Homo sapiens: one gene and its partners. The protein of the gene in region 3 purifies or fractionates together with the protein of the main gene of each other region. This does not show direct contact. Each region holds a gene or a part of one and is shown on either strand. Other genes may lie near its edges. The genes, in order: CTTNBP2NL, ACAT2 and TNIK.

What was found.
Region 1: the proteins of TNIK (region 3) and CTTNBP2NL purify together in Homo sapiens (affinity purification with mass spectrometry; 2 studies listed by BioGRID and IntAct, with this or other methods). This does not show direct contact.
Region 2: the proteins of TNIK (region 3) and ACAT2 purify together in Homo sapiens (co-immunoprecipitation; one large-scale study listed by IntAct). This does not show direct contact.

Annotation. Positions count from the first base shown.
Region 1 is NC_000001.11:112,458,283-112,461,664, reverse strand, and holds the end of CTTNBP2NL (CTTNBP2 N-terminal-like protein), read right to left. Parts: 3' UTR 501-3,382; downstream 1-500. UniProt on the Homo sapiens protein: Regulates lamellipodial actin dynamics in a CTTN-dependent manner. Associates with core striatin-interacting phosphatase and kinase (STRIPAK) complex to form CTTNBP2NL-STRIPAK complexes.
Region 2 is NC_000006.12:159,768,499-159,772,154, forward strand, and holds part of ACAT2 (acetyl-CoA acetyltransferase, cytosolic), read left to right. Parts: intron 1-12; coding exon 13-130; intron 131-3,656. UniProt on the Homo sapiens protein: Involved in the biosynthetic pathway of cholesterol.
Region 3 is NC_000003.12:171,450,258-171,453,913, reverse strand, and holds part of TNIK (TRAF2 and NCK-interacting protein kinase), read left to right. Parts: intron 1-3,373; exon of another isoform or gene 3,374-3,656. UniProt on the Homo sapiens protein: Serine/threonine kinase that acts as an essential activator of the Wnt signaling pathway. Recruited to promoters of Wnt target genes and required to activate their expression. May act by phosphorylating TCF4/TCF7L2.

The DNA of each region.
Region 1 (3,382 bases), on a different chromosome or scaffold from region 3:
TCAGAATCGCCAGGGGAGGAGCCTGGGAATCTGCTCCTCCCCAGAGACTCTCATTTGGGAAATACTGGTAGTGAAAGAACAAAGCACTAAGGTTTAAATCCTGGCTGTCATATGCTAAGGGCCCTTGCACAGATCTCTGGCCCTCAACTACCTCATCACTACACTGGGGATAATAATACCTCACAGCACCCGTGTGAGGATTAATAAGGTAATATGTATGTGAAATCATTAGCATGGTGCTTGGTACTCAAGTAGGCACTCTTGACTCTGAATATCACTGACATTCTGCCAAACCAGTTTCAGGAGCTTAAGACATTTCCTTAGGTCAGAGGCAAATAGCAAGTTGTTGTGAAAGAACAGGTAAGGGCTATGAAGGACTGTTTCTCAAAACAGACTAGCTGCATCAGCTAGTCTGAGGATCTAATCTCCAGAAATCTTTATTTTAGCAGGCTTCCCAGGTTATACTTACGCACAGTAAAGTTTGAGAACCACTACTCCAGTCTCCTTTCCCCTCCTTTATTTTTACTAATGAATTGGCCACTGATACACAAATGGTGGGTGGACAGGCTCTCATTTCTCAACTAGTTTTATAGAAATTAAATTAAAAATTATTCCTGTGGAACAATGCTCATTGCCCACTTCTGATTCATTAGGAAAACACATCCTATTTTGAAGCCAGTGTTTTGAAAGACAGTTGAAGTTCCATTTCAAGGACTAAGCATCAGAAGCACTCCTTATGAATTCACACACACACACACATACACACACACACACACAAATTGACAAGGCAGCACTGCTGACAGGCTATTAAGGGAAACCGGATATGCTAGTATTTGTTGAAATGATCATTAATTTGCTTAAATGCTGAAAACTTCAGATATGTAAACATCCACACTATTTGAACATTTTTTAGACATCAAAGGATTTTCAAGTGCTTCTCTCTGGCTTGCATTTGCTAACATTGCAGCAGCAACAGCGCTGGAGTAGTTGAAAAGGGATGCATTAATCATTTGTAAAATGAGAGAGCAGAACAAGATTATGCTTTCTTAAGCAGAAATACATGAGCCATGGATGGCTTCAGGGTCTTTGGATCCTATGAAGCCATCAAACAAATTTTGCATATAGGCATATTCATTTTTCTAGGGATAAACTCCATGGCTTTTCTAAGATTCTCAAAAAGGTCCAGAACCACCAAAAGGTTTAAAAAATCACAGACTGGATTATTGTAAAGGCTTTTTCCAGCTCTAAGACTCTAAAGAAAATCAATGTCTTAGTTCCTTATGGAGTCTAACCTGGATGGGTCATTGACTTCATTTGTTTTGTCAAAGCCACAGTCAAGTGCTCCCTCTACACCACCCCCTCTTCCCAACAAAATATGCCCAAATTGTGCCATTTTTCACTTTGTACAAACAAGACTATTTCCCCCCAAACAGCAAGATTTAACTTGTTTTAATGCAGTCTGCTATAAAAATGAAGACTTCTGCATGGTATATTTGGCTTTACAAACGTTAATGCCTAGTTAATGCTTGTGTTATATGGTACACATCATTACAATCTGTTGGCCAGTAACAGCTTTTGCAACATGGGTTAATACTAAAATTGTGAATCATGGAACTTTTACTTAGCACACACACACACAATCTACAGCAAACTTAAATACTAATCTATAATACCTAACTGGGTTATTGGATCCATTGCAAGATTGTGCTTATTTATCTCAGAAGGTAGGCAACTAGCAAAAATACACATTTCTTTCGCATATCCCCACCCCCATATTACACTGTAAAAGAAATACATTATTCAGTGCACTTCCTAAGAAATAAACTTCCTTATAGTATCTCTCTCTATATATATCTATCCCAAAACAAAGGAAGAGCACAATGCAACTTTTAAGATTACCATTTAAAGCAAAAGAGACAATAACTCTCTGGCACTGTAGCCTCCTCTCCAGTTTAGAAAGTTTAGCTATTTTATCAACACTATTCGTTTTGGCTCTGCATAGGAATAAAGTTCAATGCATGATTGCCTTGGACAGTTTAAGATACCCCCTACATCATTTTGATAGACACCTTGGGGCATTAGTAGCATTTTTATTTTTCATGTATTTGCCTTTATCAAACTATAAGCTGTGGAGTTGCCAATATACTCCATTGTGATTTATACACTGATTTCCATCACCTGCCTTTTTACTATCAACTCTTATTAGATTAAAAGGAAATAGACTTAAATTATAGCAGGAGGTCAGGGCTGCTGGATAGATGTTGGCTCAGAGAATGTATGTGAAGACACCAAGGCCTCTCCTGTATGGACACAAAATCATATAACCACTGTGTCTGAGCTGGGTTGTGGATAGTCTTATTTGGCAGAGGGGGATAGCCATTATATTCTATGAACCTTGCCAGCTGTACTGGCCTACACAGTTGGAAAGTTTGGAGGCTTTTGTCCGCATAGACTTGCTATGATGAAAATGACAGAAGTTTCTAGAATGAAAGAGGTTGCAACTTGGCAGCTTGCAAGCTAAATCCAGCTGCAGACGTGTTTGTTTAACCAGCACCATTTAAACATTTTAAAATCACTTCTTGATATTTAAAAATGAGAATGTTTCTCATGAAAATTTGGATTTCAAAAAATGTGAAGAACTGGTAATCCTGGTTTAGCATTCTTGCACCGCAGCAAGCAGATGGAGCTGAACAGATGCCCTTTTTAAATGCGGCTTGGGCACTTTAGTTTGCCACAGCTCCCACTGCTCCCAGCTGTTTTACATCGCTTGTGTGAGAGGCCTGTTTCACTCATTTATATGACCAGTTGAGTTTTGTGACACTGGGGTTAGTTTAGCTCTGCCTATTTATTTTTTTAATAGAGATGGGGTCTCACTATGTTGATGAGGCTGGTCTTGAACACCTGGTCTCAAGAGATCCTCCCATCTCAGCCTCCCAAAGTGATAAGATTACAGGCATGAGCCACTGTGCCTGGCCAGCTCTGCCTTTTTATGATACTGAAGATCTAGGCTTCATTTGGAATTTCCTCACCTTCCTGTGGACAAAATTCCTCCTTTGATTGTGTCCCAGCCACATCTAGTTGCTTCGGTAGGTAATCTTAATGTGCAGTTCTACTTGTCCTTTATGCTATATTGCAAACTCCAAAGATATAATCACACTAGTATTTATGTGTTTAAGTGTGTGTATGTTAAACATGTAAAGGGGTAATGTATCTATACAGATATATGTATACTTCCCATTTAAGCAAAAGTTAATTTGGTTTTACAGATACAGATACCAGGTTCTGGCAGCTTGGAGAATAAGTGTAACAATTTGGTAAAACTTGTATAATTCTGACTGACCTATAATATTACAGAGTGAATTTCAAGTTATTGCTTTTTGAT
Region 2 (3,656 bases), on a different chromosome or scaffold from region 3:
TCTGACTTCTAGGCTCCTCACTTGGCTTACTTGAGAACAGGAGTAAAGATAGGTGAGATGCCACTGACTGACAGTATACTCTGTGATGGTCTTACAGATGCATTTCACAACTGTCATATGGGTATTACAGGTAAGGCAGACATGGCTGAAACTGTATTAGCTTTAAAAAGGTTAAAAAGACCATATACTAATCTGCTTCTTAGGTGCTTTCGTCCTTATGGCCAGAGACTGTCTTAAGGATTTTTATATCTCTTCTTTGATTAACTGAAGTGAAGTAAGTATTCTCTTCTTTGTGAACTCTTGATTATCAGAGAATGTTAGAAGTGGGAAGTACCTCAGAGTTCTTCTGGATCAACCCCTCATTTTACCAAATGAAGAAACAGGGCCCACAAATAGTGCTTCTGTGGCAGAGGTAGTGACAGAGATAAACCAGTTGTTTTTTTGGTACCTAGCTGTACTTTTTGTACTACACAATTGGGTTATTGGTCATTCATGCTGAAGGGTCCTGTGGTCTAAGTTTAATGGCAAAGCAACTGGGAAATCAAAAGCACTCTTGTCTTTAGTATACATGTAAAACTTAAGAAACAGAATAGACATTTTAGAGTTAAAGAATCAAACCCTGAGAAGTTAAGCACCTTGCTCAAATGCATGCAGCAATGGCTCTGGTTTTATGTAACACATAAATATGTGAAAAAGGTAATGGGGAAAAGTACAAGATTCCAAGAGGGAACTGTGTGCATGAATGCTAGGAAGGAAGGAAGGGCTTAGGGATATGGGAAGCAATGAGAAGCTCAAGGCATCTTGACCACTTCTCGACTTACAGCCACAACAGAGAAGGCTATAAAAACACAGGCAGACAATGGAAGACACTGTGTGACCAACTGCCTCAACCATAACTAGAGGTGGTCATTAAAAATTCAGATCCCGAGCCCTTTCCAAGGTGTACTGTGGATTGAATGGTACTCTTCCAGCCTCCAGAACTGTAAGAAAATAAATTGCTCTTCTTTAGAAAAAAAGAAAAGAAAAAAGGCTCAGGTCATGATGGAGTAATTGACAAAGATTAGATTTCCTACTATAAACAAGCATAAAACTTGTGAAAATATATAAAGCCACTGTTTTATGTATGTCAGGTTTTGACTAATACTCATGTAAGACTGAGATCCTTGAGAGAAGGGAAAACCCCACTGTCACTGTCTCTACCCAGGGCACTTCCCAAACTGTGTTATGGAGAGGCAGAGCCTAAGCTGGAAACAGTGGTCTCAGTGATCTGAAGAAGCAGAGAATTTGGGGCTTCTGAGATGGCTGGAGTTTGTGGGGCAGAATAAGGGGGAGAAGAAAAAAAGAGCTCCAGAAATCTGCAAAAGGTTCCCCTTAAGTCTTTGATCAAATACTAAGCTTGTAGATAACAGCTTACAAGGCCTAGTAGAAAAGAGCTGCAAAGGAGAGGTGAACTGGAGATTTTATAGATTACTAGGAGATAAAAGTTCTGGACAAGCGAGTGGAAACCTTACTGAACTCCTTGGACACTCCATTGACATCTCAGAAAGACCACAGTTTAGGGGTAGGGCCAAAGCCATAGAGTAAAAGCTACTCTAGACCCAAACTAATAAGCTTAAAAACAAGCCTCAAAAGGATCAAGGTGATTTGCCAGTATTTTGACTGCTTGTGGAAACAAAACTCAATATATTCTCTAAAGATAATAAAATCTCTATGTCCAGTTATGTAGCAACTATAATGTTCAGCATGCAATGAGAACTTTCTAGATACACAAAGAATTAGGAAAATATAGCTTACAACCAGGGTGGAAAAAAACCACAACAGTCAACAGACCCTGCAATACTAGAATTATCAGATGAGGATCTTAAAGGCTCTATTTTACATATGTTTAAAGATACAAAGGAAAATATAATCTTCATAGAGGAATAGATGTGGACATCTCAGGAGTAAAAGGAAAAAATATAAACAAGAACCAAATAGAAATTCTAGAACTTGCAAAGTACACAATCTGAAATTAAGAATTCACTGGGATGGGGCCGGGCATGGTGGCTCGCACCTGTAATCCCAGCACCTTGGGAGGCTGAGGTGGGAGGATCACTTGAGGCTGGGGGTTTGAGACTAGGCTGAGCAACATAGTTAGACCTCATCTCTAAAAAAAAAGAAAAAAAAATTCTGAATGGCCTTAACAGCATCTTGGAGACAGAAGAAAAAGGGTCAGGAAGTTTGAAGATAGATCATATACACGACCTGAAGAACACAGAGAAAAATAATGAAGAATAAATGAACAGGCCAGGCACGGTAGCTCACGCTTGTAATCCCAGCACTTTGGGAGGCCAAGCCGGGTAGATCATCTGAGGTCAGGAGTTCAAGACCAGCCTGGCCAACATGGGGAAACCCTGTCTCTACTAAAAATACAAAAATGAGCTGGATGTGGTGGCCCATGCCTGTAATCCCAACTACTTGGGAGGCTGAGGCAGAAGAATAGCTTGAACCCAGGAGGTGGAGGTTGCAGCAAGCTGAGATCACACCATTGCGCTCCAGCCTGGGTAACAAACAAAACTCTGTCTCAAAAAATTAAATTAAATTAAATTAAATTAAAAAATAGGCCAGGTGTGGTGGCTCATGCCTGTAATCCCAGCACTTTGGGAGGTCAATGCAGGCAGATCACCTGAGGTCGGGAGTTTGAGACCCACATGACCAACATGGAGAAACTCCATCTCTACTAAAAATACAAAATTAGCCAGGCTGGTGGCGCATGCCTGTAATCCCAGCTACTCGGGAGGCTGAGGCAGGAGAATCGCTTGAACCTGGGAGGCGGAGGTTGCGTTGAGCTGAGATCACGCCATTGCACTCCAGCCTGAGCAACAAGAATGAAACTCCGTCTCAAAAAAATAAAATATAAATGAACAGAGCCTTGGTGGTCTGCAGGACAAAATAAATAGGACTAGCATGCATGGAATAGGAATCTCATACATAAGGAAGAGAGAGAATGGGGCAGAAAAAAACTGAAGAAAATTTCCACATTTGGTGTGAAAAGAAGTTCAAAGACCAAGATAGACAAGGGAAAAATTACACCTTAGCAAATTGTAGCAAAAAGTTAAAAAAAGATCATGCCACTGCACTCCAGTCTGGGCAACAGAGTGAGACTCTGTCTCAAAAAAAAAAAAAACAAGAGTGAAAGTGAAGAGCCATTTTTAGATGAAGGAAAATGAATTGCCTGCACACCTACACTACAAGAAATACTAAAGGAGCCAGGCATGGTGGTATGTGCCTGTAGTCCCACCTACTCAAGAGCTGAGGCAAGAGATTGCTTGAGTCCAAGAGTTTGAGTCTAGCCTGGGCAATGCTATCATAGTCTACTATGATTGCACCTGTGAGTATCTACTGCATTCCAGTCTGGTTAACATAGTGACACAACAACAACAACAACAACAAAAGAATAGCTTCCAGCCGGGCGCGGTGGCTCACGCCTGTAATCCTAGCACTTTGGGAGGCCGAGGCGGGCGGATCATGAGGTCAGGAGATTGAGACCATCCTGGCTAACACGGTGAAACCCCATCTCTACTAAAACTACAAAAAATTAGCCAGGTGTTGCAGCAGGTGCCTGTAGTCCCAGCTACTCTGGAGGCCAAGGGAGGAGACTTGCTTGAACCTAAGAG
Region 3 (3,656 bases):
CTGGTTGGAAGCTTATTTCCCTTTAGAGAAACATGATTCTATCCACTCTTTTTTACATGTCCTGGTTGTCTCATGGGGGTGCCCTCAGTTTCTCAAAACACATTTTATATCACCCCAACTTAAAATTCTTCCCTTAATGTTTATCATATGGGTCCCCTTGTCTCCACTGTTCCCTGCAAGTGCTGTAGTTACTGTCCCCTGGGCAACACCCGCAACAGGACCTCCCCTCCTCCTGTGTCTCTACCACCAGCCTTCTTCTGACTGGTTTCTCGTACACTGTAGCCACGTGAGTCTTCCAAACGCACAGTTTCAATCTGGTTGTTTTTATTCAAGGCCTTCTCTGTCTCCTTAGTCTACAGACTGAAAACTAAACTCTTTAGCATGTTAAGACCAGCGGCAATTCAGAGGGGCCTCCCACCGAGCTCTGCAGTTTTGACGACCACTCCCCCATTGCGGCAGGGAACAATTTCATTCCCCCATGGATGCTCTGTAGGGGGCGCTCTGTCTTAGTCTCCTTTCTGTACCTACTGCCCCAACGCTGAACATTCGCAGACCACCTTTTCCACAGAAGTCTCTGATTTCTCTCAAGTTGTCCCTCCCACTCATAGACTGTCTCAGAACTGACCTCACACCTCTTTCATAACACTCAGAACTTTCTGTCTTGGATTATATTCACTACTAGACAATTCCTTTTTAGAGGCAACGTTTGATTTTCTTAGGGATCCTCACCAGTTTTCTTTACACAGCAGGCGTTCGTTCAACAAATAAATTTTGAATTAACAAAATATATACTGTGCAACCCTTTTAGAAGGGCTGGAGGTGGTGCTATGTAGAGAGAGTATAGAAACCTCAGAAAGGTGGGGCCTGTTGCTGACCATGGCACAATTTCAGGGATCATGAATTACATTATAGTCTAGGTTGCATGACTCCTGGGGACACTTTTTATGTAGAGTACAATTCCAGTGGATGCTAATTACATAGAGTACAATTCCGGGGGCACCAATTACGAGAAATACTATGCCTGGTCCTGGGTAGGTATTCCTATTTCTAGAATTTTTCTGCCAAGGAAAGTGTTCTCTCCATTGTCTTATTCTAAGTTTTGAGAGATTTAAAATACCATGGGTTAGAATTGCAAGGCGTATGTGTGTGTGTGTGTGTGTGTGTGTGTGTGTGTGTGTGTGTGTTTGGAGTGTGTTTCAATTATTTCAACAATCGGATAATACTTATGACTGCTGTTTTGATTAAACAGTAATAGATGGGCGGGAAAGGGTGTGCTTCTGGGGTGGCCCACTGGAAGACAACGTTGAGTTTTTATCTTGACAGAGCTGGCAGTGAGCGGGTAGAGAGAGTTTGGGAGATGGTGAGGTTTAATGAGGCACACAGCTGGGAGTTAGAGCCCAGCGTCATAAAGCTGGCTCTGACACCTTGCCCTCTAAGCTTCAGTTTTGTCACATGTAAGATGAGTGGTTTGGACTAGAAATTGCTGGAGGTGACTTCCAGCAATTTGTATTGCTGGGATGCATATTCCTGGAATATGTAAGGGAACTAGAGGCAGGACTGAGGGCATTTAAATAGCCATGGATTCTTATTCTATCTGTTGGAGATACCAAGAGATTGCAAACTGTGCACCTCAATGAGCTGGGAATTGCCACTGAACGTAACATCCCTTTCTAATTTTTAAATGAGCTATTTTTTTCCAGCTGTCAGATTCTGATTTATAATTTAAAGTGTTGTTCTAGTTTTTGAAGACCGAGTGATAGGACGAAGGGCTGACTGTGACTTCCGCTGGGTACTCCCTTACAGTGTTGCTGCTGGATACCCGGATTTAGACTCTGAAGTAACCCTAGATTTTAAAGTGCTGTCTCTCTAGTTAGTGAAATTAGAACCTTGGCAGTATGCATCAAGTAGGAAATTTGTAGACTTTAACAATACATTGCATATGTTACAAACATTTGTTTGATTAGTGTATTAGAAGGTGCAAGTTTGGGTGCAGGGTAAATTCAGGCCCAGTATTCTGTGATTCTGTGAAATGTGATTAACTGTAGGGGAAGAAATGCACATGGTATCCAGCATTCATTCATTTATTTGTTTGTGTATATATTCATTCAGTACCTGATTATTGGGTGCTACTAGTTGCTGGGGCTGAGCTGAAGACAACATTGGCATGGTTTCTACACCCATGGTTGGATGGAGAAGAGAGCCTGCACTTGTCTTTTACTACACTCTAGCCACACTGATTTTTTTCTGTTTTGTGAATATGCCAAGCTCATTCTTGTAGTTCTCCGTGTCAGAAATTTCACATGGAGGGCTCCATCTTATTATTTAGGTCTAAGGTGAGATGCTGCCTGTATTATTACTTATGTATCTGCATAGCAGACTACCCTCAAGCTTAGTGGCCTAAACAACAATAACCATTTATTATATCTCACAGTTTCTGTGGGCCAGGAATTCAGAAGTGGCTTACCTGGGTGGTTTTAGCATGAGGTATCTCCTGAGGTTGCAGGAAGATTTTGGCAAGGTGAGCTATCTTCTGAAGGCTTGACTGGAGCTGGAGGATCTCTTTCCAAGATGATTTACTTATGTGGTGCTGGATGTTGGCAGGAGGCCTCAGTTCCTCCCCACGTAGGTGGCTCCATTGGTTGCTTGAGCATCCTCATAACATCGTGCCCACTTTTACCAGATAGAGGAATCAAGAAAGCAGAGCAGAAGCCACTATGTCTTTTATGACCTAGCCTTGGAAATCACACACCATCATTTCTGCAATACCCTGTTGGCTACCCAAGTCAGCCCTATTCATTTCGAAGGGGACTACACAAGAATATTAACTAACACCAGAAGGCAGAAGTCACTGAGGGCCCTCTTAGAGGCTCCCTACTAAACAGAGAGGCTTTCTTTGCAATATATCTGTAAAGTAACACTCCCTTCCACCCTGAAACTGTCCAATTCAGTGCTTTATTATCTTTAAGGCAGTCGTGACTATCTGAATTTTTTAAAAATCTGGCTGTCCCAACTGGAGCCTAATAAGTTTTGTGAGAATAGGGATCTTGCCTGCATGTTCAGCACCACATTCCTGGTGCTTTGAACTGTGTCTGGCACATGATAAATGTTGATTGAATAAATATCAATTGTGTGAATGCAATTAATTCATTCATTTAAAAGGGATCTTATTTATTTATTACACCTCATACCTCCAAAAAGTAAGTTGTGGCACCTTCTGATAAAAGGCATAAATAGGATAAAGCCATAAAACCATGTTAAGGCTAAAATGAAAAGTAAAGGGGGATTGTGTTTGCATATCTTTGTCTATATATCTACTTATCTATCTGTCTGCCTAGGGCTTGGTGATTGGTGATCCAATTTACCTCTTTTGTAGGTAGAAATTTGGGGTCAGAGAAGTTACTTGTCTTGTCCAAGGATGAAATTCGAATGCAGTGCTGGGTCCCGTTATACCACGTCCCTCAACTGGATTGCCAACATCCTGGACATCTTAGTGAATCAGTCATTCCCACAACACAAAAACCAGTCTAACAAAGTATGGATACAAAGATGGTTATAAAGTTGCTTGTATGTACGGAACACACTGAAGATAGCCTGTGCTCCACTGTGAAGAAACCAAATCTAATTAGATGGTAGAGGAGAACTCAGCTAAGTTAATC